2 separate regions of the Homo sapiens genome follow, and region 2 is linked to region 1. The links come from fine-mapping of genetic effects on gene expression. A gene starts in region 1. The other region holds a variant in brackets. All regions are shown on one strand. Distances are from middle to middle.

What was found. PIP is the estimated chance that this variant, and not a neighbour inherited with it, causes the effect.
Region 2: its variant is fine-mapped to the expression of FITM1 in cerebellar hemisphere (GTEx, PIP above 0.99).

What each region holds. Positions count from the first base shown.
Region 1 is chr14:24,122,000-24,135,580 of GRCh38, forward strand. FITM1 (fat storage inducing transmembrane protein 1) reads left to right here and starts at 8,660. Exons shown (of 2, transcript NM_203402.3): 1 at 8,660-9,830; 2 at 10,212-10,848. The coding sequence starts at 9,565. The coding sequence ends at 10,824. It overlaps DCAF11 (DDB1 and CUL4 associated factor 11), which reads left to right. Exons shown (of 15, transcript NM_025230.5): 14 at 972-1,078; 15 at 1,176-3,243. The coding sequence ends at 1,310.
Region 2 is chr14:23,543,063-23,559,982 of GRCh38, forward strand. It overlaps ZFHX2 (zinc finger homeobox 2), which reads right to left and starts at 8,703. Exons shown (of 10, transcript NM_033400.3): 1 at 8,281-8,703. THTPA (thiamine triphosphatase) reads left to right here and starts at 13,209. Exons shown (of 2, transcript NM_024328.6): 1 at 13,209-14,242; 2 at 15,633-16,920. The coding sequence starts at 13,696. The coding sequence ends at 15,778. It overlaps AP1G2 (adaptor related protein complex 1 subunit gamma 2), which reads right to left. Exons shown (of 22, transcript NM_003917.5): 21 at 16,876-16,920; 22 at 16,505-16,788. The coding sequence ends at 16,687. RefSeq lists enhancers at 2,251-2,875, 4,748-5,371, 7,495-8,157, 9,007-9,056, 12,589-13,523 and 2 more and a silencer at 8,637-8,876. The variant G/C (reference allele first, on the strand shown) is at 7,977.

The DNA of each region.
Region 1 (13,581 bases):
CCTTGTCTCTACAAAAAATGGCTGGACATGGTGGCACAGGCCTGTAGTCCCAGCTACTTGGGAGGCTAGGGTGGGAGAATCACCTGAGCCCGAGACTGCAGTGAGCCATGATTGTGCCACCGCACTTCAGCCTGGGTGACAGAGTGAGAAACTGTCTCAAAAAAAAAAAAAAAAAGGTCGGGCACGGTGGCTCATGCCTGTAATCCCAGCACCGTGGGAGGCCGAGGCGGGCAGATCACCTGATGTCAGGGGTTTGAGACCAGCCTGGCCAACATGGTGAAGCCCCATCTCTATTAAAAACACAAAAATTAGCCAGGCATGGTGGCAGGCGCTGGTAATCACAAGCTACTTGGGAGGCTGAGGCAGGAGAATCGCTTGAGCCCAGGAGGCTGAGGCAGGAGAATCGCTTGAACCCGGGAGGCAGAGGTTGCAGTGAGCCAAGATCGCGCCACGGCACTCTAGCCTGGGCAACAAGAGCGAGACTCCATCTCAAAAAAAAAAAAAAAAGAAAAAGAAAAAAAAAACCAGAAGCACAGCTGCAGATACAAGGAGCCTAAGGCAGTGCTGTCCCTAGAGAGACACTCACAGTCCCATGACAAAAGAAAGATGCACCCTGTCCAGATAAGGTGCAGCAGGTGCACACACCCCCAGACAGCTCATTGTTCACTTTTGTGGTGCCTTCCATATCTTACTAAAATCTTCAAAGCCAGTGCATTTCCTTAACTGTAGCCCCTATGAAATTTAGCTAAGGGCCAGACATACCCACACCACTAAACCATACCCTCAACCCAAGGTATGGAAAGGAACAGGGATAGAAGCAGAAATAACACAGTCTTCTGGTGTGGGCTTTGCTCCCATGGGAACATGGGAAGTTGCCTGAGAGGCAGGTCAGTGGTGCTACTCATGGGGAGGTGAGGGATAGTTTAGATGTCTTGTGGTGGTCCCTCTCCACTCTTGCCTGTCCTGGACAGTGTACGACCTTCTAAGTGGCCACATTGTGAAGAAGCTGACCAACCACAAGGCCTGTGTGCGTGACGTCAGTTGGCACCCCTTTGAAGAGAAGATTGTCAGCAGTTCGGTGAGGTTGCAAGGGTTGAGGGTGCTGGCACATGTCTGGGGCTTGGACTTGGGTGGGGGCAGCACATCCTGACTGCTTGCCACCCTCTGCCCTGCAGTGGGACGGGAACCTGCGTCTGTGGCAGTACCGCCAGGCTGAGTACTTCCAGGATGACATGCCAGAATCTGAGGAATGTGCCAGCGCCCCTGCCCCAGTGCCCCAATCCTCTACACCCTTTTCCTCACCCCAGTAGATCCAACCTCCAGCCCCATATAGGGTGAACCTCTTGATAAGCTCTCTGCCTCCTCCTCCCTTTCTCCCTTGTGGGGAATGTTTGGAGGAATCACTGGCATTTGATGGGGAATAACATAAGCCTGGGCTCTGAGCCTCAGCTGAGCCCTGGAAGATTCTCCCCATGGGGCAGAGTGGTCTCCTTACGTGCTCACACCCAGTCAGCTTGGGTCCCTATCTCTGGCCAGAGTTTGGCAGGACTGCCATTATCTGGGGTGTGGCCTCTGCCAGCAAGAGAAGTGTCCTGGGTGTTTTTAATCATGTTTGAATGTTAGGGGTTGGATCCTAGAGTAGATGCCTGAGGCCACATCTGAACAGACCTGTCAGCCAGGCCTGCCAGGTCTTCACGTTGAGGATTCAACTGGCCAATCACAGGACAGGTGTCCTGGCCTTTCTTCCTGAGGTCTCTAGGGGAGGGGCATGGGTAAGGGTGTTTCCTCAGCACCCTCCTGGGGTGGGGATTATGTCTGCTGTCATGTCTGGGTCTTTAGGGTAGGACAGGCTGTGGTATGAGAGGCAGGAGTCTCCACAAGGCTTCATGTGGCCCCTTATAGGGCAGGCCCTGCCCTCTGGGAAGGTCCCTTCATGCTGGAGGCACACAGCTTTAAGGAAGTAGGTTGAAGTAGGACTCCTTCGTCCTCTCACTGGCTTTGGCTCCCTCAATAAACTGTGTGGGAACCTGGCTCAGTGTCTGTCTCTCTCTCTCACTCTCTGTTTTTCCTATCTGAGGTCTTTCATCTCCTCACTTCAGGAAAACACAGTTCAGCAAAGTCTTCAGATGCGATCCTGTGTAGGAGAAAATACCCTTCTGGTGCCCCATGAAAAAGGGAAATACCAAAACCATTTGTTCACTGAGCCTTGCAATAGGTGCTCCCTTACCAATTTCAGAAGCTTCCCTGCAAGTAGATATCGAGAGAGCACACTTTCCATTAGAGCCTGGTAATACCCATATCACCTCTGCTCTGAGGCTGGGCCTGCAGCTGTGTAGTCTTTGGAAGAGGTAGCCCCTGAACGCAGAGCCTAAGAGAAGCAAGTCGGCCCTGACGCCAGGCCCCAGTGGGCGCCTCACACTCAGAACCTCATACCCCAGAGCAAACCGATGGTCAGGGAGAGGGCTAGAGCTCACACCCAGCTCGGAATAGATCTTCCCTGATGACATTTCATGCCCTCTAAGGCAGTTTTTAAATGAAGGTACACACATCCAGGGGTGTTCACAGGCTTTCACAGCAAGGGTACCTATTTCATGGCAAAATAGGCAGTTTTAAAAGAATAAACAAGCTAGGTGTGGTGGCTCATGCCTGTAATCCTAGCACTTTGGGAAGCCAAAGCTGATGGATCGCTTGAGCCCAGGAGTTTGAGACCAGCCTGGGCAACATGGCAAAACCCCATCTCTACAAAAAATACAAAAAGTAGGCCGGGCACGGTGGTTCACACCTGTAATCCCGGCATTTTGGGAGGCCGAGATAGGTGGATCACCTGAAGTCAGGTGTTTGAGACCAGCCTGGCCAACATGGTGGAACCCAATCTCTACTAAAAATACAAAAAAACTAGCCGGATATGGTGGCGGGTGCCTGTAATCTCAGCTACTTGAGAGGCTGAGGCAGGAGAATCGCTTGAACTTGGGAGCAGAGGTGAGCTGAGTGCAGTGAGCCAAGACCATGCCATTACACTCAAGCTTGGGCAACGAGAGCAAAACTCTGTCTCAAAAAAAAAATTAGCCAGATGTGGTGACGCATGCCTGTAGTCCTAGCTACTCAGGAGGCTGAGGTGGGAGGATCACCTAAGGCCAGGAGGTCAAGGCTGCGGTGAGCCGTGATTGTGCCAATGTACTCCAGCCTAGGTGACAGAGTGAGACCCTGTCTCAAAAATAAATAATAAATAAATAAATGTTCAGATCCTTGGCTTCTGTGTTCTCATTCCTCAAATTGATCTACCTAGTGTGAAACTCCCGTGCCAGATCTCCTTTCCCATCCACGCTTTTCATTCCCCGTCTGCCAAGTGATAAAGTTACCTAAGGTGCTACCCATCTCACCCAGAACCTGTGTTACTTCCAGGGCACCAAATTAAGAGAGAAATTCAAATTGTTAGTATCCTTATAGCTTCATTAGATCAAAGCCCCACAGACCGACCATTCTCAGTAAGAGATGCATTTACAATATAATTTTATGTTATCGAAGTAATGTAAAATGTTTGTTGTACAGGCATACCTAGGAGATATTGTGAGTTCATTTCCAGACCACTGTAATAAAGTGAATATTGCATAAGGCGAGTCAATTTTGTTGGTTTCCCAGTGCATATAAAAGTTATGTTGTTTTTAGGCTGGGCACAGTGGCTCATGCCCGTAATCTCAGCACTTTGGGAGGCCGAGGCAGTGGATCACCTGAGGTCAGGAGTTCAAGACCAGCCTAGCCAACATGGTGAAACCTCGTCTCTACTAAAAATACAAAAATTAGCCAGGTGTGGTGGCAGGCGCCTGTAGTCCCAGCTACTCAGGAGGCTGAGGCAGGAGTATCGCTTGAACCTGGGAGGCGGAGGTTGCAGTGAGCTGAGATCGCACCACTGCACTCCAGCCTGAGCCACAGGGTGAGACTCTGGGGAAAAAAAAAATTTTGTTTTGTTTTGTTTTTTTTTTTTTGAGACGGGGTCTCACTCTGTCACCCAAGCTGGAGTGCAGTGGCATGATCTCAGCTCACTGCAGCCTGGACCTCTCCTGGCTCAAGCAGTCCTCCACCTCAGCCACCTGAGTAGCTGAGACTACAGATGCCCACCACTACACCTGGCTAATTTTTGTGTTTTCTGTAGAGATGGGGTTTCGTCCTGTTGCACAAGCTGTTCTCAAACTCCTGGGCTCAAGCGATCCTCCCACTTCAGCCCCCCAAAATGCTGGGATTATAGGCATAAGCCACTGTGCCTAGCCATGAATGTTCTTAATGGCATCTGGAATGGTGAATCCTTTCCAGAAGGTTTTCAGTTGACTTTGTCGACAGCTATCAGAGGAATCACTATGGCAGCTGCAGTCTTACGAAATGTTTTTTTTTTTCTTTTTTTTTTTTTTGCTTGATATAGGGTCTTGCTCTGTCGCTCAGGCGCAGTGGTGCACTCAGCTCACTGAAACCTCTGCCTCCCCCTGGACTCAAGCGATCCTCCCACTTCAGCCTCCCAAGTAGCTGGGACTACCAGCACACACCACCCACATCCAGCTCGTTTTTGTTATTTTTTGTAGAGACGGGGTTCGAAATGTATTTCTTAAAGAGTAAGACTTGGCCGGGTGCAGTGGCTGACACCTGTAATCCCAGCACTTTGGGAGGCCGAGGCGGGTGGATCACGAGGTCAGGAGATCGAGACCATCCTGGCTAACACAATGAAACCCCGTCTCCACTAAAAATACAAAAAAATAGCTGGGCGTGGTGGTGGGCACCTGTAGTCCCAGCTGCTCAGGAGGCTGAGGCAGGAGAATGGCATGAACCTGGGAGGCGGAGGTTGCAGTGAGCCGAGATCGCGCCACCGCACTGCAGCCTGGGCGACAGAGCAAGACTCAGTCTCAAAAAAAAAAAAAAAAAAAAAAGTAAGACTTGCAAGTCAAAATTACTCCTTGATCCATGGGCTACAGAATGGATGTTGTGTTAGCAGGCATGAAAACATTAATCTCCCTGTACATCTCCAGAGTTTGTAGGTGACCAGGTGCATTGTCAATGAGCAGTAATATTTTGAAAGGAATCTTTATTTCTGAGGAGTAGATCTTAACAGTGAGCTTAAAATATTCTGTAACCCATGCTGCAAACATATGTGCTGTCATGCAGGTTTTGTTGTTTTATTTATAGAGCACAGCAGAATACATTTAGCATAATTCCTAAGGCCCTAGGATTTTCAGAATGGTAAATGAGGATTGGTTTCAACTTAAAGTTACCAGGTGCATTATCTCCTAATAAAAAGAGTTAGTCTGTCCTTTGAAGCTCTGTAGCCAGGCCTTGACTTCTCTCTAGCTGTGAAACTTCTATGTGGCATCTTCTTCCAATAGAAGGCTGTTTTGTTTGCTTTGAAAATCTGTAATTTAGTGTAGCCACCTTCATCAATGATCTTAGCTAGATCTTCTGGATAACTTTCTGCAGATTCTATATCAGCACTTGCTGCTTCACCTTGCATTTTTATGTTATGGAGGTGGCTTCTTTCCTTGAGCATTATGAACCAACCTCTCCTAGCCTCCTCACCACTCTCAGTCTTTATAGTATTGAAGAGAATAGGCTGGGCTCAGTAGCTCACACCTATAATCCCAGCACTTTGGGAGGCCAAGATGGAAGGATCACTTGAGGCCAAGGGTTGGAGACCAGTGTGGGCAACATAGTGAGTGTTGGCATGCACATGTAGTCCCAGCTACTTAGGAGGCAGAGCAGGAGGATTGCTTGAGCTCAGGAGTTTGAGACTGCAGTAAGACATGATCATGCCACTGCACTCCAGGCTGGGCAACAACGCAAGACACTGTCTCTTAAAAAAAAAAAAAAAAAGAGTTGGGGCCTTGCTCCAGATTAGGCTTTGGTTTAAGGGAATGTTGTGGCTGCTTTGATCTTCTATCCAGACCACTAACACTTTCTTGATATCAGCAATAAGGCTATTTCACTTTTGTATCATTCATGTGTTCACTGAAGTGTAGTACCTTTTAATTTCCTTTAAGAACTTTTCCTGGACAGGTGCAGCGGTTCACTTCTGTAATCCCAGCACTTTAGGCAAAGACAGAAGGATCACTTGAGCCCAGGAGTTTAAGACCAGCCTGGGCAACATAGTGAGACCCCTGTCTCTACAAAAAATTTAAAAATTAGCCAAACTTCGTGGCCTGCACCTGTAGTCCCAGCTCAGCGAGAGGAGGATCACTTGAACCAGGGAGGTCAAGGCTGCAGTGAGCTGCAATCATGCCACCGGATTAGGCTTTGATTTAAGAGAATGTTGTGGCTGCTTTAATCTTCTACCCAGACCACTAAAACTTTCTCCATGTCAGTAATAAGACTGTTTCACTTTCCTGACAGAAAGTGACCCTGTCTCAAAAACCCCAAAAACTAAGGTATTCATGTACTAATAATATATTTTAGACTACTAACAGTTACAATGAAAATAGAATCCATAGGAAAAAAATTAACTCTTAGGGCTTTATGGTCACAGGACATTTCTATTTTATTTATTTTATTTATTTTTATTTTTTGAGACAGTCTTGCTCTGTTGCCCAGGCTGGAGTGCAGTGGTGTGGAATGCAGTGGTGTGATCACTGCTCACTGCAACCTCAAATTCCTGGGCTCAAGTGATCTTCCCATCTCAGCCTCCTGAGTAGCTGGGTGGGTGCCACCATCTTTGGCTAATTTGTGTATATTTTGTATAGATAAGGTTTCACCATGTTACTCAGGCTGGTCTAGAACTCCTGGGCTCAAGTGATCCTCCTGCCATGGTCTCCCAAAGGACTGGAATTGCAGGTGTGAGCCACCACACTGGGCCCAGAAACTATAAAAAATTAAATTTTTTGGCTGGGCACGGTGGCTCACGCCTGTAATCCCAGCACTTTGGGAGGCCGAGGCAGGCGAATCACTAGGTCAGGAGTTCGAGACCAGCCTGGCCAACATGGTGAAACCCCATGTCTACTAAAAAAAAAAAAAAAAAAAAGTAGCTGGGTGGTGGCGGGCGCCTGTAATCCCAGCTACTTGGAAGGCTGAGGCAGGAGAATCGCTTGAACCCAGGAAGCAGAGGTTGCAGTGAGCCAAGATCGTGCCACTGCACTTCAGCCGGGGCGACAGAGTGAGACTCCATCTCAAACAAACAAAAAATTAAATTTTTTGAGTTACTTTTCTTGCAGAGAAATGTGATAAATGGTCAATAAAAGACTTTCAGGCATAAAAACATATTAGGATAAATTCTGTGAGGGAGTAGAATGGAAATATAATTTCTGATGTAAAATCTTGTCATGTTTTAATGGATAAAGGTGAAGTATCTAATCACTGTAGTATTTACATTTCATTGGATACATTTGAAACAGTGATATAATGGATTTATTTTGAAATGTCAGTATATGATACACTAGAAATTATGTCCTTTGCAACTATTTAAAACCACAATGAGACCAGGCATGGTAGCTCATGCCTGTAATCCCACCACTCTGGGAGGCCAAGGCAGGAAGATCACCTGAGGCCAGGAGTTCAAGACCAGCCTGGTCAACTTAGTGAGACTTTGTCTCTACAAAATAAATATTGAAACAAGGTCTCACTCTGTTGCTTAGGCTTGGAGTGCAATAGTGCCATCACGGCTCACTGCAATGTCAACCTCCTGGGCCCAAGTGATCCTCCCATTTCGGCCTCCCAAGTAGCTGGAATTACAGGCACGTGCCACTATGCCCAGCTAATTTTTTTAATTTTTGTAGGGACGGCGTCTCACTGTGTGAGACCAGCTCAAGGTGGTCCCGAACTCCTGTGGCTCCTCAGGCTGGTCCCAAAGTGCTGGGATTACAGGCATGAGCTACCACACCTGGCCAAAAAATAAAAAATAACCAACCATGGTGATGCATTCCTGTAGTTCTAGCTACTCAGGAGGCTAGGGCAGATGATCACTTGAGCCCAGGAGTTTGAGGCTGCAGTGAGCCGTGATAGCACACTGCATTCCAGCCTGGGCAAGCGTGAGACACTGTCTCAAAAAAATAAATCATAAAACTTTAATAAATAAAAATGAGTGGAAAGAATTTTTTTTTTTAAGACGGAGTCTTGCTGTTGTTGCTCAGGCTGGAGTGCAATGGCACAATCTCGGCTCACTGCAACCTCCGCCTCCCGTGTTCAAGCGATTCTCCTGCCTCAGCCTCCAGAATAGCTGGGATTACAGGCGCCCGCCACCGTGCCCAGCTAATTTTTTTATTTTCAGTAGAGACGGGGTTTCACTATGTTGGCCAGGCTGGCCTCAGGCGATCCATCCACCTCAGCCTCCCAAACTGCTGGGATTATAGGCGTGAACCACCATGCCCAGCCTAGTTCAAAATTCTTTTATAGGGTTCATTGAAGGTCACTATTCCAAGGTATGGGCTTTAGGATCTGGAAGGAATCTGATTGATTATCCAATCTGTCTTGATCAGTTTATAAAGGAAATTGATTTACTGAGGACTGAAGAGGGTTCATTGATTTTCCTAAAGTCACACAGTTGGGCCCAGAACTCAGGTGTCCTTGCTTGCTCATTCCTTTCACTACTTCCGCTGTGCTCTGAAATCCCACCACTGGTTTTGAGGAATGAGGAAGAAAGAAAAAGTGATCTCGAAACAGTTACTGACTAACAGGCACTCTCCGTGGATAGGTAGCTGACTGCCCTGCTGTCGCCGCCTCAGCAGTCAGACTGGGAGGGCAGGCTTATATGGAGAGCCCTGAGGCCCAGGGTAGTTGGTTGGAGGATGGAACTTAAGGTTTCAATTGACTCCTGTCTGGCAATTGCCCTTTTAGGGTCTCCTCTACCTCTGTCACCTGGGAGTAAACCTAATCTTTAGGGATCTGAGGGTCAACGTGATCAACAGATGAAACCGCCAGTTTATACAGCAGCCCTGGGCCAAACTAGTCCCTTAGAGACCCTCAATCCAGACAGGAACTAGGGCAGAGCCAAGCTGCTGGGGTCACAGGGCACTGAAGTGGATACCCATGCTGATCTGCCTCCCAAGGCCTATGATGGCCACAGTGCTGTGCACAGCCACCTTGCTGCATCCTGCTGTTGGTGGGCTCTTGTGCTCAGAACCCCAGGAGAAGGGCTAGATCACACTGATAAGACTGGCAGCTTTTTTTAAAAAACGACTTTCAAGGTTTGGTTATTTTTATCTCCATGACCTCTGATTTCCCTGTGGAGCAAATGGTAAAGTAGGGGTGGGTGGAGAGGGACTTTGGCAGACTATGGACAAGGACAGCCCTGAACAGCTGGCCCTGTCACAGGAACTGGAACATGGTCGGAGCCAAGGACACAGGACTAACAGGAAAGGACACAGACTGCTGTCAGGACACATACTACCACACACCCGAGGCCAGGACCCTGCTGACGTGGCAGACCTCCACCCTGGCCCCTTACTGCCCCCCGCCCCTCTCCCCCACCTGCCAGCTGCCAACAGGGCTCTGCCTTGTGTCTGCCACACCTGTCACTGCCTATCCTTGTCCAGGGGGGGCCCCATCAGCCCCTCCTCAGCTGCCCAGCAAAGCAAGCAGTTAGTGGGGAGGGGAGGGAACATGGAGCGGGGGCCGGTGGTGGGGGCAGGACTGGGGGCCGGGGCCCGAATCCAGGCACTGCTGGGCTGCCTGCTCAAGGTGCTGCTCTGGGTGGCCTCTGCCTTGCTGTACTTTGGAAGCGAACAGGCCGCCCGCCTTCTGGGCAGCCCCTGCTTACGGCGCCTCTACCATGCCTGGCTGGCAGCAGTGGTCATCTTTGGGCCGCTTCTGCAGTTCCATGTCAACCCTCGGACTATCTTCGCCAGCCACGGCAACTTCTTCAACATGTGAGTCCACTCAAGGCTGTGGGAGCCGGGTCCCTGCACTCTGGGATCCTAGCTCCCTTCTCCAGGCTTCTGTCCTCCTGCCAGTCTGAACACTAAAAATAGGCTAGGAGGTTGAGGAAAAGGTCGGGGGAGGGGGAAGGGAACAGAGCCCTGGGGTACAGGGGAAGTTGGGAACAGGACTAAAGAGGAAATATGGACCCTGGAATGCTGAATTGTCTTCCAAGGAGATAGCAAAGGTTAAATGACTGGGGGCTGTAAAGGGCACGGCAAGGAGAGAACGAGTGATGATGTGTAGGGTTGGGGAGAGTGCAGTGATGGGAGCACAGACCAGGGTGGGAGATGGAGCTTGGGGTCTCAATAGTCTCCCTTCTTTGCCCACAGAAAATTTGTGAATTCAGCCTGGGGCTGGACATGCACTTTCTTAGGGGGCTTTGTGTTGCTGGTGGTGTTCCTGGCTACACGGCGCGTGGCAGTAACTGCCAGACACCTGAGCCGACTGGTAGTAGGGGCAGCCGTGTGGCGGGGAGCCGGCCGGGCCTTCCTGCTCATCGAGGACCTGACTGGCTCCTGCTTCGAGCCACTGCCCCAGGGTCTGCTGCTCCACGAGCTGCCTGACCGCCGCAGCTGCCTGGCAGCCGGCCACCAGTGGCGAGGCTACACCGTCTCCTCCCACACCTTCCTGCTCACCTTTTGCTGCCTGCTCATGGCAGAGGAAGCAGCTGTGTTCGCCAAGTACCTGGCCCATGGGCTTCCTGCCGGCGCCCCACTGCGCCTTGTCTTCCTGCTGAACGTGCTGCTGCTGGGCCTCTGGAACTTCTTGCTGCTCTGTACCGTCATCTATTTCCACCAGTACACTCACAAGGTGGTGGGCGCCGCAGTGGGCACCTTTGCCTGGTACCTCACCTATGGCAGCTGGTATCATCAGCCCTGGTCTCCAGGGAGCCCAGGCCATGGGCTCTTCCCCCGTCCCCACTCCAGCCGCAAGCATAACTGAAAGAAATAAAAACCATCGGGCCTGGCTGTGGCTCCTCTCATCATTTGGTTGGGTCCTTGAAAGGGTGGGAAGAGGGTCTGGTAGTCACTAGGGTTCCCCAGCCATTCCTTGCTCTCATCAACCTTGAATGTCCTTCCTTATGCTTGACCTCCATCCCTCCAGCTGTCCTTTCAGTCTCCTAGTTTTTGCAGACTTCAGGCTATCTGGGGACTGAGACATCCAGGAATGGTGCTTCTAAGGTAATGCCCTTAGGTGTGGGCATCATTCTTGCTGAGCAGTTGCTCCATCTCCAGCCTGTTTGATTGTTTTTCCTGCCTTCTCCACTGAATCTCCACTCCCTCTCTTCAGGGGCCTACCTATCTGGGCACTCCTCGCAGGGACTTTTCCTACCCTGTCTTCCCCGTAGGGGGTCTGTATGTGCTCATCTATTTAACAAATGTTTATTGAGCTGAGCATAGTTCTATGCCATGTAAATAAGACAAGATTTCTGCTGTTTGGAGGCATATGAGCTAACTGGGGAAGGCAGATAATAGATCACACAAATAATAGCAAAACACTTGCACTGCGTTTACTCTGTGCCAGACACTGTTCTAAGTGTCTGTAAGTTCTTTATAAAAGTTAACGCATATGGCCGGGCGCGGTGGCTCACGCCTATAATCCTAGCACTTTGGGAGGCCGAGGTGGGCAGATCACTTGAGGTCAGGAGTTCAAAACCAGCCTGGCCAACATGGTGAAACTCCATCTCCACTAAAAATACAAAAAAAAAAAAAAAAAATTACTTGGGTGTGGTGGCGGGCGCCTGTAATCCCAGCTACTTGGGAGGCTGAGTCAGGAGAATCCCTTGAACCCGGGAGGCGGAGGTTGCAACGAGCTGAGGTTGCACCACTGCACTCCATCCTGGGCAACAAGAGTGAAATTCCATCTCAAAAAAAAAAAAGTTAACACATTTGGTCCTCACAACAATAAAAGTATGAGGTAGGTTGTACTGATCTTGATTGGCAAAAAAAAAAAAAAATTGAGATAGTAGTGTTCCCATTGTACAGTTGCAAACACTGAGACACAGAGGTTAAGTAACTTGTTCACAACTAATAAACAGAGGAGCCATGATTACAAAGCTAGATAATATGGGTATATCATCTATCCTCTAAACCAGGAATTAGCAAACTTTGGCCCTCCTGTGGCCAGTTTTGTATGACCTGCGAGCTAATAATTATATATGTATAATATATATATTTATATATTATATATATTATTATATATTTTATATATAATATTTGCATATATAATATATATATAATTTTTTTTTAAAGACAGAGACCTGGCAGTGATGGCAGTGTAATCCCAGCACTTTGGGAGGCTGAGGCAAGAGGATCACTTGAGCCCAGGAGTTTGAGACCAGCCTGGGCAAGATGGTGAGACCCTGTCTGTATAAAAATTTTTTTTAAAAGGTAAAACATTTTTTACATTTTTATTTTTATTTTATTTTTATTATTTTTTTGGAGACAGAGTCTCACTCTGTTGCCCAGGCTGGAGTGCAATTCTGGCTCACTGCAACCTCCACCTCTCAGGTTCAAGCGATCTCCTGTCTCAGCCTCCCGAGTAGCTGGGATTACAGGCCCCCACCACCACACCCGTCTAGTGTTTGTATTTTTAGTAGGCACAGGGTTTCACCATGTTGGCCAGGCTGGTCTCGAACTTCTGACCTCAAGTGATCTGCCTGCCTTGGCCTCCCAAAGTGCTGGGATTAGAGGCGTGAGTCACTGTGCCCGGCCATTTTTACATTTTTTAATGGTTGAAAAAGCAAAAGAATAAGAATATTTTATTACAGGAGAAAGTTACATGAAATTCAAATTCCAGTGTCTATAAAATGTTATCTCACCAAACTAATTCATTTACATATGGCAGCTTTCCTACTACAATGGCAGAGTTGAGTAGACAGACACTGTAAGGCCTATAAAGCCTAAAATATTTACTCTCTGGCCCTTTATAGAAAAAGTTGGCCAGACGCGGTGGCTCATGCCTGCAATCCCAGCACTTTGGGAGGCCGAGGCGGGCGGATCACGAGGTCAGGAGATCGAGTCCATCCTGGCTAACATGGTGAAACCCCGTCTCTACTAAAAATACAAAAAATTAGCCGGGCGTGGTGGGACGCGCCTGTAGTCCTAGCTACTCCGTAGGCTGAAGCAGGAGAATCGCTTGAACCCTGGAGGTGGAGGTTGCAGTGAGCCTAGATGGTGCCACTGCACTCCACCCTGGGCGACAGAGCGAGACTCCGTCCCCCAACACACACACACACACACACACACACACACACGTTTGCCAAAACCTGGTTTAAATCAGTAAATTATCCTGGAAAAAAAAAAAAAAACACCTGGCTAATATCAGAGAGATAAATGCTATGAATGTACTAAAACAGGATGATTTGTAATAGATTTGGAGGGAGGTTCCTTATAAAGGATGATGAAAATAGTTCTCTCTGAAGAGGTGACATCTAAACTGAGAACCGAATGACAACACCCAGGGTAAGGGTGTTTTAGGCAAAGGGATTATTAGCAAGGGCAAAGGCCCTGAGGCAGAAATGAACATGACACATCTGAGAAACAAATAGCCCAAATATTTGCAAGTGTAATGAATGAAGGGGCAAGCAGTAGAAAGTGGACTTAAAGGGGAGACAGGTGCGACAGCCTTTTGGATTTCATTCAAAGGTCAACAGGCAGCTGAGAAAGGGTTTTAAGCCAGAGAGAGGCATGAACCCGC
Region 2 (16,920 bases), 580 kb before region 1:
CTTTCTGGTTATTTTATTCTGTGAACCTGTGTGATGTAATGACTGCATTTAAATAGTATTACAACAAAAACTAATTGTAATAATAGTAAATAGCTAACATCTTTAAATGTTTGCCATGGGCCAGGCACCGTGCTAGGCCCTCGGCAAGTATCACATCACCTAATCCTCCACTTCAATCTGATGCAATAGATGTAGCTATTCATTCCTATTTTACAAACATGGAGACTGATTTAGATGGGTTAAGTAATTTTTAAGATCTCCTGCTTAAAAAGAAGTAGAGTTGAGATTGGAACTCAGGTAGCCTGATGTCAGTACCTCTGCTCTTGGGTTAATTTGTAAGCTTCTGAACTCTGGCTGGTATGCATTTTGAATGAGGTCTTTTGAGTCTGATTGTATTACTCTGTGTGTCACCTTGAGCATATGTGCTATCATGTTCCGCCTGAAGGTGCTAGATGGCTGTCTTCCATTTGGTTTGTTTCTTAGTATAAGATGGACCAGAAGAGGAGCACTGCTTTGCGCAACTCCAGGGTGCGTCATTCACACTGCAGTCCATGCAGGGGCACTGGCCATGCCCTGTGTGAAGGAAGGGAAGGAGCGGGAGGGAGGGAGTGGGAACAGGAGGGAAGGGATAGATAATGGCGGGTAGTGTTCTTTGAATGATATGTGTACCCATTTGTGACAACATCTCTTAAAGTTGAAGGTCTACACATGTGTATCCATATTAGCATATGAACTTCATCAGACAAGCACTCTCCCTCCAACAGAGGGAGACCCTGTCTCAAAAAACAAAAAAAAATAGCCTTTAGAGTCAGACAGACCTGGAATCAAATTCTAGTTCTGTTTCTTAATATGTAAATGACCTCAGGTAAGTTGCGTAAAGTCTCAATTTAGTCTCTTCATATAGAGAATGGGGCAGGCCGGGCACGCGCCTATAATTCCAGCACTTTGGGAGGCCGAGGTGGGTGGATCATTGGAGGTCAGGAGCTTGAGACCAGCCTGGCCAACACGGTGAAACCCTGTCTCTACTAAAAATACAAAAAAAATGAGCCGGGCGTGGTGGCATGCACCTGTAATCCCAGCTACTCAGGAGGCTGAGGCAGAAGAATCGCTTGAACCCGGGAAGCAGAGGTTGTAGTGAGCCGAGATTGCACCACTGCACTCCAGCCTGGGTGACAGAGTGAGACCCTGTCTAAAAACAAACACATCAGAAACAGAAAACAGAAAAAAAAAAAAAAAAAGGGAATGGGGAACTCATGGAGTTGAGTCCATTGAGAGGATCATCATTGAGATTGGCACTTTGGGTGTATCAATAAATGGAAATGGAATAATTATTCATCCATATGCCTTATTTCCTGTGTTGGGGTATGTGTATGTTGTTTTTTGATTGTATGTGGGGCAGCTGGTAACCTGGCTGTAGCCCTGTCCCAGTACTTCTTTGGGGTTGGTGAAGGTGCTTGTTCTCCCTGGCTGGATTTTCCCAGGCCCTCCATGTACACGTGTGTGGGCCCTGTGCTTCCCTTTCAGTAGTAGGGTATCCTGTTCAGTGTGTTGCTGTGAGCCCGTATGTGGTTGGCCCGGCTGGCGCGGGCGTGTTTAGGGTGGTGGTAATTACTGGGATGGCCCAGCCCTAATGAGTGTGATCTCGTTACACTCTCGCTGCCTCTAATGGCGCTAACCTCATTTCACAGCCATTAGAGATGGAGATGAGGCCCCGCCCACTGGCCCTGCCAGCTGCAGCTTTTGCAGCCCTGGCCACGTTCTTTCCCTCCGGCTCGCCATTTCTCCATTCCACTTCTCCTTCTCCCACCTTTTTTTTCTGCTCCTCCTACCAGGTTTCCCTTTCCTGTCCCCCATTGTTCTTTTCCCTGGCCGTTTTTCTGCACCCCTCTCCTCTTTCATTCTCCTTTCATGTCTCCCTTCCCGCTTCTCTCTTCGATTCTGGGCTCCTCTTCTCTTCACTCATCACCCTCCCTTTTTTCTCCTCTAGTCAATTTGTCCTCCACATTGCCATTTCTCCATCCTCTTTTCCTTCCCTCTCCCCCGCCCTTCACGGCTCCAGTTCCTCCCCTCCCCCACATTGCCCTGTCTGGCCAAAGGACAAATCTCAAGGGGAAACCAGCAAAGACAAACAAGGAGCAGTGACTTCATTATCGTCGTTAATTTGCCACTTCAGTTCCTCCCATAAGGGTCAAAGCCAGCACTGCTTGAACTCAGGACTGACACGCAGGCCGAGACCATGGCCTGGCTTTTCAGCCCTACTTCTTACACAACCACTCGTCCGCCCTCCTCAGCTGTCTTCATTTCCCTGCGGAGGGGTCAGGCTTCCTGTTTGCTCTCCAATTTCTTAGTCCTCACAGCCTACTGCACTCCTTCCTTTCTCATTTAAATTGTGGCCATCTCTCTGTGCTCTCTCCCATCTCCAAGTCATGGGTTTTTCACCTTTGACTCCTATCTCTGTCATACTCTCTCCCAACTTCTCCCTGCCTAATCTTTCCAGAACCTCTTTCTCATCCTTCCCTGGCCTTCTCTCTAATTTCAAGTGCACTTCTTTCCCTAAAGCAGCAGGATTTATCTGTAGGTTTGTGGAAACCACATAGCCTGAAGAAGCTGGAGATGAGAAGAAAGGCATCTGTGGCCCAAGCAGACCACTGATACAGAACACAGAGATGGCTGGGGGGAAATGCAGACAACTGTGATGGAGGCAAGAGAAGCAGCAAAATCTAGACCCATGCCCATGGCCCAGGAATAAAGAAGACAGAGGCTTGAGATTAGGGAAAGAAAAGGGCATCACAAAACAAGGAATGAAAAATCTGAGGATGGAAATGGCGTTTACCCCATCAGGTCCTCGGGGAAACACAATCTAACACTCTTGGCCCACCCTCTGCCCTCCTTCACTGAGAAGCCAAATGACTGGTAATTGACTCTTGACCTCTAGCCCAAGCCCAGCCCCAAAGGGAGAGGTCCAGGGCAGTTAGCTATGACTGGAGGAGGCACTAGGGAAATGTGCATACATGAAGTTAAATTCCTGCCTACACCCATTCTGCCCCACTGACTTTGCACATCAACGTGCTCCACAGGACCAGACTCTCCATGCATAAACTGCTCTGCAGAGAGGTCTTGCACACCCTGGAACATTCATGTCTTTCTGATTGCACAGGCCCCTGTGCATGCGACATTCCAGTTGATGGTCCTGCTGGGAATTCCAAGGCCTGAACTTTAGCTTTGATGTAATCCTGTGTTCCTGCCAAATACAGAAAGAGGGCTCCTGTTCTCTCATTAGACTTTGGGGTAAAAAATGCTGAGGGGTGCTGAGCATCTCAGTAGAAATTAGAAAAATATATCTTCCTCCAGGTGTATGCAGCCCCCATGCCAGTGGTACAGCTTGGTGACAGGACTGTGGGTGGACCTCAGCCCTGTCACCCCTTAACAACTGCACATGAGGACCCTGGTCTCTGGACTAGTTCCTACATGAGGAAGCCACTGAGAGCCCATGGGATTACCCTACGGGGCTGGAAGTTACTTCTAAATCTTTCACCCCTGCCTTGCCAGCCTGGGGAGGAGGGATGGGCAGGCAGTTCCCTAGGACTTTCCCCAGAGAGGCAAGGGGCTCTGGGAAAGTGGGTGGTGGGCTGACCGAGCTTAGTGTGAGGAGCTCGAGAAGAAAGATGGAAAAATCAATGAAATGAGTTTCTAACGGTGAGGTAAAGGACCACTGTGTCGACAGCCTGTCGCTTGCTGCAAAATATGAGCTGCCCAACTCCGTGGCGGTGGCTGACAGTGCAACAGCCACCACTGTCCTTCCTTCAGGCCCCCCGCCCACCAGCCCCTTCTTTAGCTGCCCTGGCCTTGCTTATTATAGCCAGACTGTCCTCCAGCACTCCCAGCTCTCTCCCCTGTCTTCTTTTGTAGATTTCTCAACCCATTCAGGGGCTTTTTGGCCCTTCACCTCGTGATTCCTGATTGGGTGCATGTTTGTTTTCTATAGCTTCTGTGTATTTAGACCTCCTCTTTCTGCAGATTTTGCTCTGAGAGTTGTGGTGAGTTTTACATCTCTTGCCTCCCCCTCTTCTAGATACCTCTGGAGTCTTTCAACAATGGAGAGTCAGATGTCAAGGCCATCCCTCACAGGGTTCTTTACATCAAGATCTGGGCAGCAGTAACTTCTCCCTCCTTTGGCCTTTTGGCCCACATGGCCAATGCTGCCTTCGTTGTATTAATAATTACCTGGCTTGGGATAGGTGTTTAGAATGGGTCTGGTATTGATTTATGAACTCCTTATTTGCGGCCATTGTATATATACGGTTATGACCAATTCAATTGTAGTTTCATGATTGGGAATGGGGTGGGGATGCTACTTTTAATTCACATTTGCCAACTCTCTCTTTGGAAACAACTCTCAACCTTTTCTGGAAACCGCCTCCTTTCTCTTCCCTCCTCCACATCTTCCTCTTGGGCTCCTAGGGCTGTTCATTCATGTTTTCCTCCAATTATCACTACAAAGACTCTGCACATGAGCCCTGAGAGTTCCCCTGGCTGCCTCCAAGTGTGACCCTAACCCAGTCTCTCCTGTCTGCCTCAGATCTCACTGTCACTGGTTAACTACCCTCCAGCCATTCCCTCCGGTTTCTGATTTCCCAGTTTGCCCATTAATGTAGACTTAGGTGGGGGGAGTGGGTGAAAATTAGGTGGGCAACTCTTTCCCCCAGCCTCTCCCTACTAATTCAACGTTTGATCAGTAGATATTTATTAAGCCTTTTCTGTGTGACAGACACTGTGCTAGGTGCTGGAAAACAATTGGAAACTAGACAGATGTAGCCACTCCTCAGATGACCATGTGACTAACCCTGAGTCTCTCACCAGACAGCTAAGTCTCTCAGACTAGGGGACTCTGTCCCATTTCCCCCCTTTCTGTACAGCCAAATTCCACTGTGCCCTCTGGCATTTCACAACCCTTCCCTTTTCTCAATCCCTGAATGAGTTTACACTCACACAGCCCCGATCCCTTCCCTCTGCATTCTAGCTTTAGTCTCCATTCCTAAACCCAAAGCCATTACACTTTCAACAACTCTCCTCCCCACTCACAAAGCCCTTCTCCTTTCACATTCTGTAACTGCCATTTCTAGTCCTCCTCTTCCGTCTCTGCCTGCCTTTTGATCCAACCATCCTGACCTCAATGCCCTGTCTTAGGTTCCTTCCTCTTGCTACTGTCAGGCTCTAGCAAACCTCAGGTGCTCACAAACAGGAGTTATTTGTGACAACTGTTGTTCTGAGCTGGGAAGAGCTCCAGGGAGGCAAGGTCAAGCTACCAGAGTCAGAAATCCTACCAATTCGACCCAGGCCCTGGCCCGTAGGTGATACAGCACCCCGGCAAAGCAGCAAGTGATTCCTGTATGGGTCTCAAGGTAACACCAGCTGCCTCTGACATCATGGAGGGAGGAACCCTGTCAGGTTGCCAAGGCAATACCAGCAATTTATGACATCAGAGGCTTGAGGTCTTTGGTTCTCAGGGGCTGGGAAGATTCAAGTTCCTCTCAGCTGAAGTTTATGGGAATTCTACTTTTTCATCTCTTTGCTTGTGTTCTGGCTTGGGAATGAAATACAAAGGCCTTTCGTGGGGGTAGTGAGTGATTAGGCCAATGAAATGAATGCTCGTGAGGTTCTCTCTCTCTCTGTCTCTTCCCTGGATATTTCTGCTTTCTCTCCCTCTCTTGGGCATTTCTCTCTTCTGGGGCTTCGCCCAGTGGTATTCCTGCTATTTGTGCTATGCTTTTTTTCCAACCCCCCGGCGCCCCCGCAGTGCTCTCGCTCTCTTCGCATCAGTCACGCTGTGTCCTCCTCACACCAGAGGCATTTGTTTCCTTTGATACCTCATCCTCTCCTCTTTTCCTCCTACCAAGCTCTGTGCAGCTCTGATCTGCCTCAGCACTCCTTCGTTTGCCATCCATTTACCTTCTTTGTACCATACTCTCTTCCCATCTCATCTTGTTCAGCAATTCCTCCCTTCCCCCTCTTTACTACTGTATTAATTTCATAGTGCTTTTTCTGTTGACCTCCACTTTAGGAATATTCTATCATTTCTCTTCCTTTTACCTTCTGTATTGCTATCAACACGTTTTGTTTCATTCTTCCAATTTCTTATTAATCACCCCTTGGTTCCTCCCCTGCCCCCGAGTCCGCATAGATTTTCCTCCCTTCCTTTGCACATCCCTCACGTCATACATTTCTCTACCCCATGTGTTTATTGCACCGACCACCCCTTTCTTTCTTTAATTCTGTTCACCTCTGAAATCGTCCATCTTCTGCCCATGTCTGCCTGCTCCTTTTACCTTTCCAAGCTCCTGAGGTTTGGAAAAACAATGATGGGCTAAAAACTAAGGTAAACTCTCCAGATCCTTTATCCACCCTTACTGTTCTTCAGGCTAAATGAACTTGGCTCCTTACATACGATAGCTTTTATTACACTAATAAACACTGCCTCATTAAAAAAAAATGGTGCTGGATCTAAATATGATAGTAGCAGGGGCCTAGGAAGAAGATGAACTAAAAAGTGAAGAAAAAGCAACTGATATCTAGAATGAACTGAAGGATGGGGGGCAACCAGGCAGGGTGGAGCTTAGAGTCCTAGGGAATGTCCCCTTACAAAATCAAAGTTGACAGTTAACTGACATAATGGCACTGACTGATGGAGGGGTTATATGCCCCTGGAAGCTCATTAAATTTATTTCTTGGCCTGTTTATGTGCCTTCACAAACCATACCCCACACCTCTCCCAGCCCTTTGCTTGCTGGTACTTTCTGCTGCTGGGGTTAAAATGCTGGATAAGAGGAAAAGGGATAAAAGAAACTAGAAACTTAGGGTGATCAAGAAGAAAAGGTAGGAAGAGGGCAGATTATGGGAACAAAGGTGGAAACTCAGAGCTCATGGGAAACAGATGGAAAAAAGGGGTGAAGCAAAATGGGGAAATAAAAAATATACAATGATACAGTGGGGGAAGGGAGTAAAATTAAGTCAGCAGGGAAGAGGTTTTGTTGTGCGAAGCTCCTGGAAAGGCAGATGACACGCATGAGACCAGAAGGTGAGGTTCTGATGAGGGAGACAGGCACATGGCAAAGGGGACAGTCAACAATGCTAGGAAGTTCCAAAGCTTCTCTGGTGATGGTGGAAGAGGAGGCTGTCCTGGCCATGCTGAAGGCACTAGAGGCTTTGGCGAAGACACATTTGCTCCATCATCCCACTCCTCCAGGCCCTGACTGTGACCACCACAATCATGACTGATAAGCAAATTCCAAAGTAGCCTGAAAAGGCCAGAGATATCCAGACAGACTCTGAAGGAGAGGGCATGGAATCCTAGACCGACAGAACAGGCAGCCAAGGCGTGACACATAGTGATAGAGACACACAAGGAGAGGATCACTCAGATGGGAAGGGTCACAAGTGGAGACAGTGACATACAGATCCAGAGATGGATGGGATGGAAGAGACAAGATGAAGAACAGCAAAACCAAAAGTCAGGGACACATGGACAGAGATCAGCGGGGCTACAGGCACAGCGAGGAAGCGTGGTCCTGTGCTTGAAAATGATAGGGCTGCTCAGAGGGGCAGACGAGCGGATGGGGGTGGTAGGATGGGCGTGCAGGACAGACACGCTTCACCTTGAATGGGCTTATGGCCTCCCCTCACCTACTCAACACTTTCAAAAAAAGGAATGGAAAGCCCAACTTCAGCCAAAAACGAACGAAGACTGAGAGTATCCACGTCCCCTCCCACTCCACGCCCCAGCGCGCTAGCCCATCCATCAGCCCGCCGGCCGCGGTTCTCCCATCCCACAGCCGGCGGGGGGCCGCCGAGACCCAGGACCCTCCAGGCTGACAGCTCTGAGCCCTCACACTCACCGGGCCTCCCCTTCCCCCCGGGATCCCCGCTCCCTGCCCAACTCGGCGCGGTCCGTCTAGGCTTTCCATACCCTTCGTCTGTCC[G/C]GCGGGCCTCTGCCTTTCCCGTTCCCGTTTCTCCCTCCACCCCCGCATCTCTCTTCCCCCATCCTCGCGCACGCCCTCTTCCTCCCACACCCCTGTCTGCTATCTCCCAGGGCTCTCGGTCTGTCTGTCCGTCCGTCCTTGTCCCCTCCCCCAGCCCCTTCCCGTCCCTCTCCGTCCCCTCCAGCGGCAGTCTCCAAGCGCCTCCTCTCCCGTCTCGAGCTTCCAAAGAGCAAGGAAGGGAAGAAGAGAGAGAGGGAGAGGAGAAAAAAACCAACCCAGCAGCATCGGAAATCGATGCACTTACACCTCAGCTGGAAGCAGGGACGGGAGTCGAACCGCGGCCACCGAGCAGCGCGAGGCGGGGAGGGGAGGGGGCGGCTCTTGGAAGGGACTTCTCCGATGTGTTGATTCCTCTTTTTTCCCCTCCTCCTCCCTCCCTCCAGCGCTCGCTCCGGGGCGTCAGGGACGGAGACGGAAAAAAATAAATAAATAAATTCACGGCGGTGAGGGAAGTGAAGGAAAATAATCAATGCTATTTGGCTGCGGCTGAAGTGTTTCCCCGGCTTCGTGAGGGGGTTTCCATTGATTCACCCTGGGCACTCGCTCGCTCCCTGCCTCCTCCTCCTCCTCCTCCTTCTCCTCCTCGCCCTCCTCCTCCTCCTCCTCCTCGCCCTCACTCCTCCGCCTCATTCACTGGCTGGAGTCTAGGCGTCCCACACAATGGAATAATCAATACCCAGGCGCCCGGGGCTGCCCCACTGAGCAGGTGCAGCGACCCGCCCGCCGCGGCGCATGCCGGGAGTTGTAGTCTGTTCGCGCCCGCCCGCCTGCCTCGCGGGACCCAGGGCCGGGGGCAGGCCGGCCAGCCCACCAGGTCGCCTCCAGGTTCAAGCCGGTGCCTGCAAAGAGGGCAGGCCCCTTTAAACTCTTTTCCGTCTCCTCTCCTCTTCATCCTGTGGCCTGCAGAAACCATACATGTGTTTTGTTGTTTTGTTTTAAATCAGCTTCAGAACAAGCCCTGAGCCGCCCAAGGCCTCCTTTTTTCATTCTCTTCTTCCTGCCTTATTATTCCGCCTCCCCCATCTCCCCCCGCGAAATTGGGTACTAGAACCTTCTCTACCGCAGCAATTACTCTTTAGTCTCTGAGAGCTTCTGCCTCCTCCACACGGTTACATAGTCCCCTGAGCTGGGTTGGGGGAGGTTCGGGCTCCTCCTCATCTTCAGTTTATCGCTTATTAAGTGCTCCTGAATTTTTTTTTTTTTTTTTTTTCTGGAGACGGAGTCTCACTCAGTCGCCCAGGTTGGAGTGCAGTGGTGCGATCTCGGCTCACTGCAACCTCCACCACCGGGTTCAAGCGATTCTCCTACCTCAGCCTCCTAAGTAGCTGGGATTACAGGCATGCATCAACACACCCAGCTAATTTTTGTATTTTTAGTAGAGACGGGGTTTCACCACGTTGGTCAAGCTGGTCTCGAACTCCTGACCTTGTGATCCGCCTGCCTCGGCCTCCCAAAGTGCTGGGATTACAGGTGTGAACCACCACCGCGCCCAGCCCGTTTTTTTGTTTGTTTGTTTTTTTCTTGAGACAGAGTCACTCTGTCGCCCAGGCTGCAGTGCAGTGGCATGATCCCGGCTCACTGCAACCTTCACCTCCCAGGTTCAAGTGATTCTCCTGCCTCAGCCTCCCAAGTAGCTGGGATTGTAGGTGCCCACCACCATGCCCTGCTAATTTTGTATTTTTAGTAGAGACGGGGGTTTCACCATCTTAGCCAGGCTGGTCTCGAACTCCTGACCTCAGGTGATCCACCGGCCTCAGCCTCCCAAAGTCCTGGGATTATAGGGGTGATCCACCTCACCCGGCCGCTCCTGTATTCTAATAATAATTTTTAAGATTTCTTGAATGCACAGGGACAGTTCCAAGCACTTTTACATACATTGTTTACTCCTCTCAATACCTCAAGCATGAGGTAGATGCTATTATAGTCTCATTTATTGAGGAAACTAAGGCACAAACAAGTGAATTAACAGGCCCAAGGTCCAATGGCCAATAAGTAAGTGACAGTGCCAGGACTCAAAAACCTCCATGGTCTGGCTCCAGGGCCCATACTAACTGCTATAGCCTACTTCTCTTAAACAACACAACAAAACCCTGAAGTTCACATGACAAAAAGGAGAGATAAATGAACATTTTGAGTTTATACTATGTGACAGTTTATGACTGAATCCTCACAGGTAACTGTGAGGCAGGCCACATTTTCTCAATGAAAAAGCAGAGGCTGGCCGGGCATGGTGGCTCACTCCTGTAATCCCAGCACTTTGGGAGGCTGAGGTGGGTAGATCACCTGAGGTCAGGAGTTCGAGACCAGCCTGACCAACATGGTGAAACCCTGTCTCTACTAAAAATACAAAATTAGCTGGGCGTGGTGGTGGGCACCTGTAATCCCAGCTACTCGGGAGGCTGAGGCAGAAGAATCGCTTGAACCCGGGGGGCAGAGGTTGCGGTGAGCCAAGATCACACCATTGCACTCCAGCCTGGGCAACAAGAGTGAAACTCCGTCTCAAAACCAAAAACAGGCCGGGCGTGGTGGCTCACACCTGTAATCCCAGCACTTTGGGAGGTGGAGGCGGGTGGATCACAAGATCAGGAGATCGAGACCATCCTGACTAACAGGGTAAAACCCCATCTCTACTAAAATTACAAAAAATTAGCCGGGCATGGTGGTGGGCACCTGTAGTCCCATCTACTTGGGAGGCTGAGGCAGGAGAATGGCATGAACCCTGGAGGCGGAGCTTGCAGTGAGCCGAGATGGCGCCACTACACTCCAGCCTGGGCGACAAAGCGAGACTCCGTCTCAAACAAACAAACAAACAAAAATTAGGAGGGTGGGGTGGCACGTGCCTGTAGTCCCAACTACTCAGGAGGCTGAGGCGGGAGAATCATTTGAACCCAGGAGGCAGAGGTTGCAGTGAGCTGAGACGCCAGAGTGAGACTCTGTCTCAAAAAAAAAAAAAAAAAAAAAAAAAAAGCAGATGCTTAGGAAAGTGGAGTAGCTTGCGGAAGGCCAAACATCTAGAAAGTGAAGCTGGGAGTCGACCTCAGGTCTGGCTCCGGAAACTGGTCTTTCTGTTCAAATAAGCTGCTGCTTTTGCCCCACTGGATTGGATCTTATAACATAAGGAAAAATTAGGTCTTCATCCCAGGTTAACAAAACCGGAAAGCAAAAGATGGATGAAAAGCAGGCTTTAGGAGCTGGGGTTTCTTCTCTCCCTAACCAACAGTGCTTAACATGGAGTGGGGACAGAGGTTGACCCAAGCTACTCCAAGTTCAAGATGCCATTTGTTTATTTATTTATGCACAGGGTCTTGCTCTGTTGCCGAGGCTGGAGTGCAGGCAGTAGCAGGATCGTAGCTCACTGCCCTTGACCTCCTGGGCTCAAGCTATCCCGCTGCCTCAACCTCCTGAGCAGCTGGGACCACAGGCATGCACTACCACACCCGGCTAATTAAAATTTTTTTTTTTTTTTTTTTGTAGAAACAGGGTCTTCCTATGTTGCCCAGGCTGGTCTCAAACTCCTGGCCTCAAATGATCCTCCTGCCTCGACCTCCCAAAGTGCTAGGATTACAAGTGTGAGTCAACACACCTGGCCAAAATGCCATGTCTTTAAACCAGTGTCCTTCTCCCTATAATACCTCTCACTGGTCATGTATTTCCAGAAACATACTGGTGAGAGGGCAGGTGTTGAGAACATGGCACTTCTCACCCATCATAGGAAGGAGTCCAGGAGTTAAGAGCCACGGTTCCTCAGGGAGCTTCCTCACATGGAAGGTCAGACATATAGTTAGAGTCTCCAGATAACCATAGTCCTCAGAGGGAGTAAGAAGGAATCATCTCTATTAATATTTTGTCTCCCAAAGCATTCAAAGGGCCAACCCCCATGTTTTCCTGAATTTTATTTTTTTGGGGACAGATGGAGTCTCGTTCTGTCGCCCAGGCTGGAGTGCAGTGGCGCCATCTCAGCTCACTGCAACCTCTGCCTCCCAGGTTCAAGCAATTCTCATGCCTCAGCCTCTGGAGTAGCTGGGAACACAAGCACGCGCCACCATGCCCGGCTCATTTTTGCATTTTTAGTAGAGACGGCGGGCCGGGGGGGTTTCTCCATGTTGGCCAGGCTGGTCTCGAACTCCTGACCTCAGGTGATTCACCTGCCTCGGCTTCCCAAAGTGCTGGGATTGCAGGTGTGAGCAACCGCACCGGCCTTTCTGTATTCTAAATGAACATAAGTAGTTCTACACCTGACAAAAACTGCTTAGGGACCGCTGGAAACTCTGACAAACTCCTCAGTCTAGCACTCAAGGCTTTTCCCTCAACTGCATTTCTAGCCTCGTCTTCTCCTTACGTACCACCCAGGTGCTCTCCAGTTTCTGGGCCTTTGCTTAGGCTATTCCTGTCTCCATCTAGGTCTCCAACTGTTGAAATACCATCATATCTTTAGTTCCTGGCCAAAATACCACTTTATTCTCTGACAGAAAGTTTCTCACCCACTCTTACCCTCAACGTTCATGCCAGGAGGTATTAGATCCCCTCTAAAACTCCAGAGTAGCTAAACTGGACTTTATTACGCGCTGCCCCCGCCCCCTTCCCTCCCCCCACCCCAACCCCCCTCGCCACCATTGCCACTGGCCTGCGCTTAGCTGGCTGCTATAGCAGATATCTGTTGGACGGTGTGAATGGCTTGTATTCCAGGCCCATCTGCCTGCGTTGGGGGTGCGGCGGGGGGTGTTGGAGACGGGACTGGGGCTTGAGCTCCTTGCACCCGACTCTCCCCGCCGCCTTGTAGCCCCAGTTCAGCTTTAGGTAGAGTACCGCAGGCACCAAGTGCAGCTTTCCTGTCGCCATAGCGACGGGCGGGGCGAGATGGCAAAGTCTCCCTTTGGAACTACATCTCCCATCATGCATCCGCGCCTCGGGGTGCCTGGCTCAGCCTCAGGCATGAGACCTGTACCAGCCCCCGGGAGCCGTGCGGGGCCAACAATGAGGAGCAGAATGCAAGGGGCGGCCTCGCTCCCCTGGCCACCGCGGGGGTCGCGGCCTCCCATTACATAGCGCGTGTCTCGAGCCCTGGCCTGCTCTCGGCACCGCCACAACGGGCGTAATATGGCCGCTGGTGCCGGGACCTGCCGGGCGCGCGGAGGGTCGGGCCGAGGTCCGGGATCCGGAACTGCTCCCGGCATTCCTCGCGAGTGTATGGCGTGGGCTCCCTTCCCCCTCTGTGGGTCCCGCGAGGAGACTCTCGGGCTTTGAGGTGAGACCTGAAGTTCCGCTGGCCGGTAGTGTAGCAGGAAAGGGCAGGTCCTCCCGGGTCGTGAGCCAGTAGCCTCCTGGGGTGGCAAGGTGTAGAGAGGGGGGCGTTGAAAGGACACCCGCTACCCGGCCTGCTTTCTAGGGGTCTCTTTGGATTGAGGACATCAGCAGCAGTGGAAGGGATTTTACTGGAGACCTGTCACTGTCAGAGCCTTAAAATATCACCGACGGGGCCTTAATGTCACCGAGGTAGAGAGAAAAGGGCAGTAGCCCTAGAGACTATTGCGACACAGTGTGCCCCTCATAAGTTTTTCCAGGGAGGGGTTCTGTACTGAGTTGACGCCCCAGGAGCTGAGCACCAGGCTTTGCATCCTTGGGAACTCAGCAAACGTTTGTTCAGCCAATTGCAGGTAGCATGGCCCAGGGCTTGATTGAGGTGGAGCGAAAGTTCCTTCCAGGGCCTGGCACAGAGGAGCGGCTGCAGGAGTTGGGGGGCACCCTGGAGTACCGGGTCACCTTCCGAGACACCTACTATGACACCCCTGAGCTGAGCCTCATGCAGGCTGACCACTGGCTGCGACGACGAGAGGATAGTGGATGGGAGCTCAAATGTCCTGGAGCAGCAGGTGTCTTAGGACCCCACACGGAGTATAAGGAACTCACAGCGGAACCTACAATTGTGGCCCAACTCTGTAAGGTGCTGCGGGCTGACGGCCTGGGGGCTGGAGATGTGGCTGCTGTGCTGGGCCCACTGGGGCTGCAGGAAGTAGCTAGTTTTGTGACTAAGCGGAGTGCCTGGAAGCTGGTGCTCTTGGGAGCTGATGAAGAGGAGCCACAGCTCAGGGTGGACTTGGATACAGCCGACTTTGGCTACGCTGTGGGTGAGGTAGAGGCCCTGGTGCATGAGGAGGCTGAAGTACCAACTGCCCTAGAGAAGATCCACAGGCTCAGCAGCATGCTTGGTGAGGGAGACAGGCCCTTTTGTGCTTTTCCTGCTCCCCACTTTTCTCTTTTGGAGGCACCTGCTGGACCATGCAGTGGGGGAGGGCCTCCGGATTAAAAATTTTTTTTTTAATAGAGACAAGGTTTTGCCGTGTTGCCCAGGCTGGTCTGGAACTCCTGGACTCAAGCAATTTGCCTGCCTCGGCCTTCCAAAGTGCTGGGATTACAGGTGTGAGCCTCTGTGCCTGGCCTGGATTATTTTTGTAATGGGAATTGTTTTAGCAATTTTCTAAGTTTGCTTACAGTTCTGTGAAATCTCGTTTTCTCTTTAACAGTAGCTAATTTGGATCTAGTCCTTCCACGTGTCTAATTCCAGCCAACCTGCCTCATTTAGTTCTCATACCTATAGCCAGATCTCCTTCAGTTTCATTTCTCAGTTCCCTGCTTTGACTCTTCCTTCCCCCAATCTCTTTTTTTTCTTCTTCTTCAGTCACCACTCCTCCACAAGGAGTAAAAAGTAAGCCTTTTTACAAAAGCTGCCCTCTGGGAGGCTCAGACCCAGGATCTTCAGATCATGAGACTGATGCACTGCCCACTACACTGAGAGTCCAACCAGTCTTGTCCTTTTGTTTTACAATTACCTAGATCCTTTTAATTTGTCCTTTTGGCTTTTTGTAAAGGACAATAACATTATAGTTATGTGAGACAGTGGGGCATGATTTGGCAGATTTGTTCCTAAGCATAATTCCCTTGTAGACAGTTCATCCACACTAGGAATTGTGCATCCCATGGGGCCTTACAGCCCTGCAGTGCTGTTTGAGCCCCCTCAGCAAACATACACTGAGTTCCTTGCTATGTGCCCAGCATGCTGCCAGGCACTAACAACAAGACACTGGCAACAGGCAGTTCCATTCTCACCTCACCATGTAGAGGCGAGAATTCTATGTGAATCCCACCCCATGGCTATAGCTTCCCTCCTCTTCTTTCTATAGCTCTTGGTTTCTATGTGTACATCTCTGCATGTGCTTCATTACTAAGCTAATGAGCTTTGGCCTGGTCTAGGGCTTTAATCTTGATTGCGGAACAGGGTAATAACTGAAATGAGCTGACGCTGAGGCATCCTTCGTTTATCTTGGTGCCTGGGTGCCTCTTCGCCATTTCTCCTTGCTGGAGGAGAGAGGCTGAGGTGTGGCTTCTAGTCCCACTCTTGCCTGAAGTTGCTCTTTTAGGTCCCACTTCCACAGGCAGGCAGGGAGTGGACTAGTGTGTTACAGAAGCTGGGTGGGTGACATTCAGAACCCCAGTGTGGCTTTGGAAACATCCACGGAGTCCTGGCTAGGTGGGCAGGGAGCAGAGTCCAAGTGCTTGTGGCTCTGTCCATTTCTCTCCTCATTGTCCTTTTACCTGTAGGTGTGCCTGCACAGGAGACAGCACCAGCCAAGCTGATTGTGTATCTACAGCGTTTCCGGCCTCAAGACTATCAGCGCCTGCTAGAAGTGAACAGCTCCAGAGAGAGGCCACAGGAGACTGAAGATCCTGACCACTGCCTGGGCTAGGGGTGTCACTTCCTAGAAGGGGAAGGGAACTCTGGGTCTAACGGAGTCCACTCCTGGGCCCACTGTGCCTCTCCCCTCAGTGTCCCTTCTGACAGTGACTCCTCTCTCTCCAGCGCTGCCTGTTTCTTCCCCCTCCTCTAAGCTACTCTTCCTTGAGCCCTCCCTGGCTGCTTCCTCTCGCTCATCCGTCAGATGCAATCTGTGGGCCGCCCCTCTCCCCTGGCCGCTAAGCAGCCTCCATTGATTTCCGCTCGTGTTTATAGGATTTCCACTTAGCCGTGATCAGTAGTTAAGCACAGGAAAATCCCTTGCCACCCCCCCTCCCTTGGTCGATGCCATTGATTCTGCCAGCGGCTCCTAAACCGCCTTACAGCTGAGTTAGAAGATGAGGAGAGGCAGCAGGGATTTCCCTGCCTTGGGATGTGGGAAACAGAAGAAAAGTTGAGGAAATGGTTGGGAATCGCTGTTAGAACTCTAGAAATTCTAATCTGACTTTGCCACTGTGCCCAGCTCTGGCCCAGAGGGTAGAGTGCCTCCTGTGGAAGTTTAGGGGCAAATTTGTTCCCTGACCTGGAGAGGGTTAGAAAGAACCAACAGCTGCCCCCTCCCCGCCCCCGTGTTGAGACAGGTTCTCAAGGCTCAGGGGAAGATGCATACCTCCTATGTAAGAATGCTCTTCCCTTGCTGTTATTCATACACACTTTCCACTTCAAATATACCCAAATATGGCTTTCCTCACTTCTCAGGCTTTATTGGGCTTTATTTGTGGGAGAAGGGGGCTGGTCCCCAGTTTTTGCAGTGCAAAGCCAGAGCGCCACCTGCTGGTAGCCCTCAGGTGTAGGTTCGAAGCTGCTGGGGCCCCCTGGGGTTTGGGACACAGGAGAATTTCAGGCTGTGAGTGGAGACAGTTACTGCCACGATTCCACAGGCAAGTTGTTCACCTCAAAGATCTCCTGCACCGACTGGTGAAAGTGGTCGTAGGTGAGGCGCAGCTTTAGCCGCAGGGGGGCCTAGGAATAGGAGAGCAGGGACCAGGGTTAGCACCCACGGCTTCTTCTATCCCTGGGTCTTGTCTTGGGGGAACTCCTGAAGCTCACCTTGTTAGGATTGAGGATTCTGAAGAGCTGGGTGATAGGAAGGCC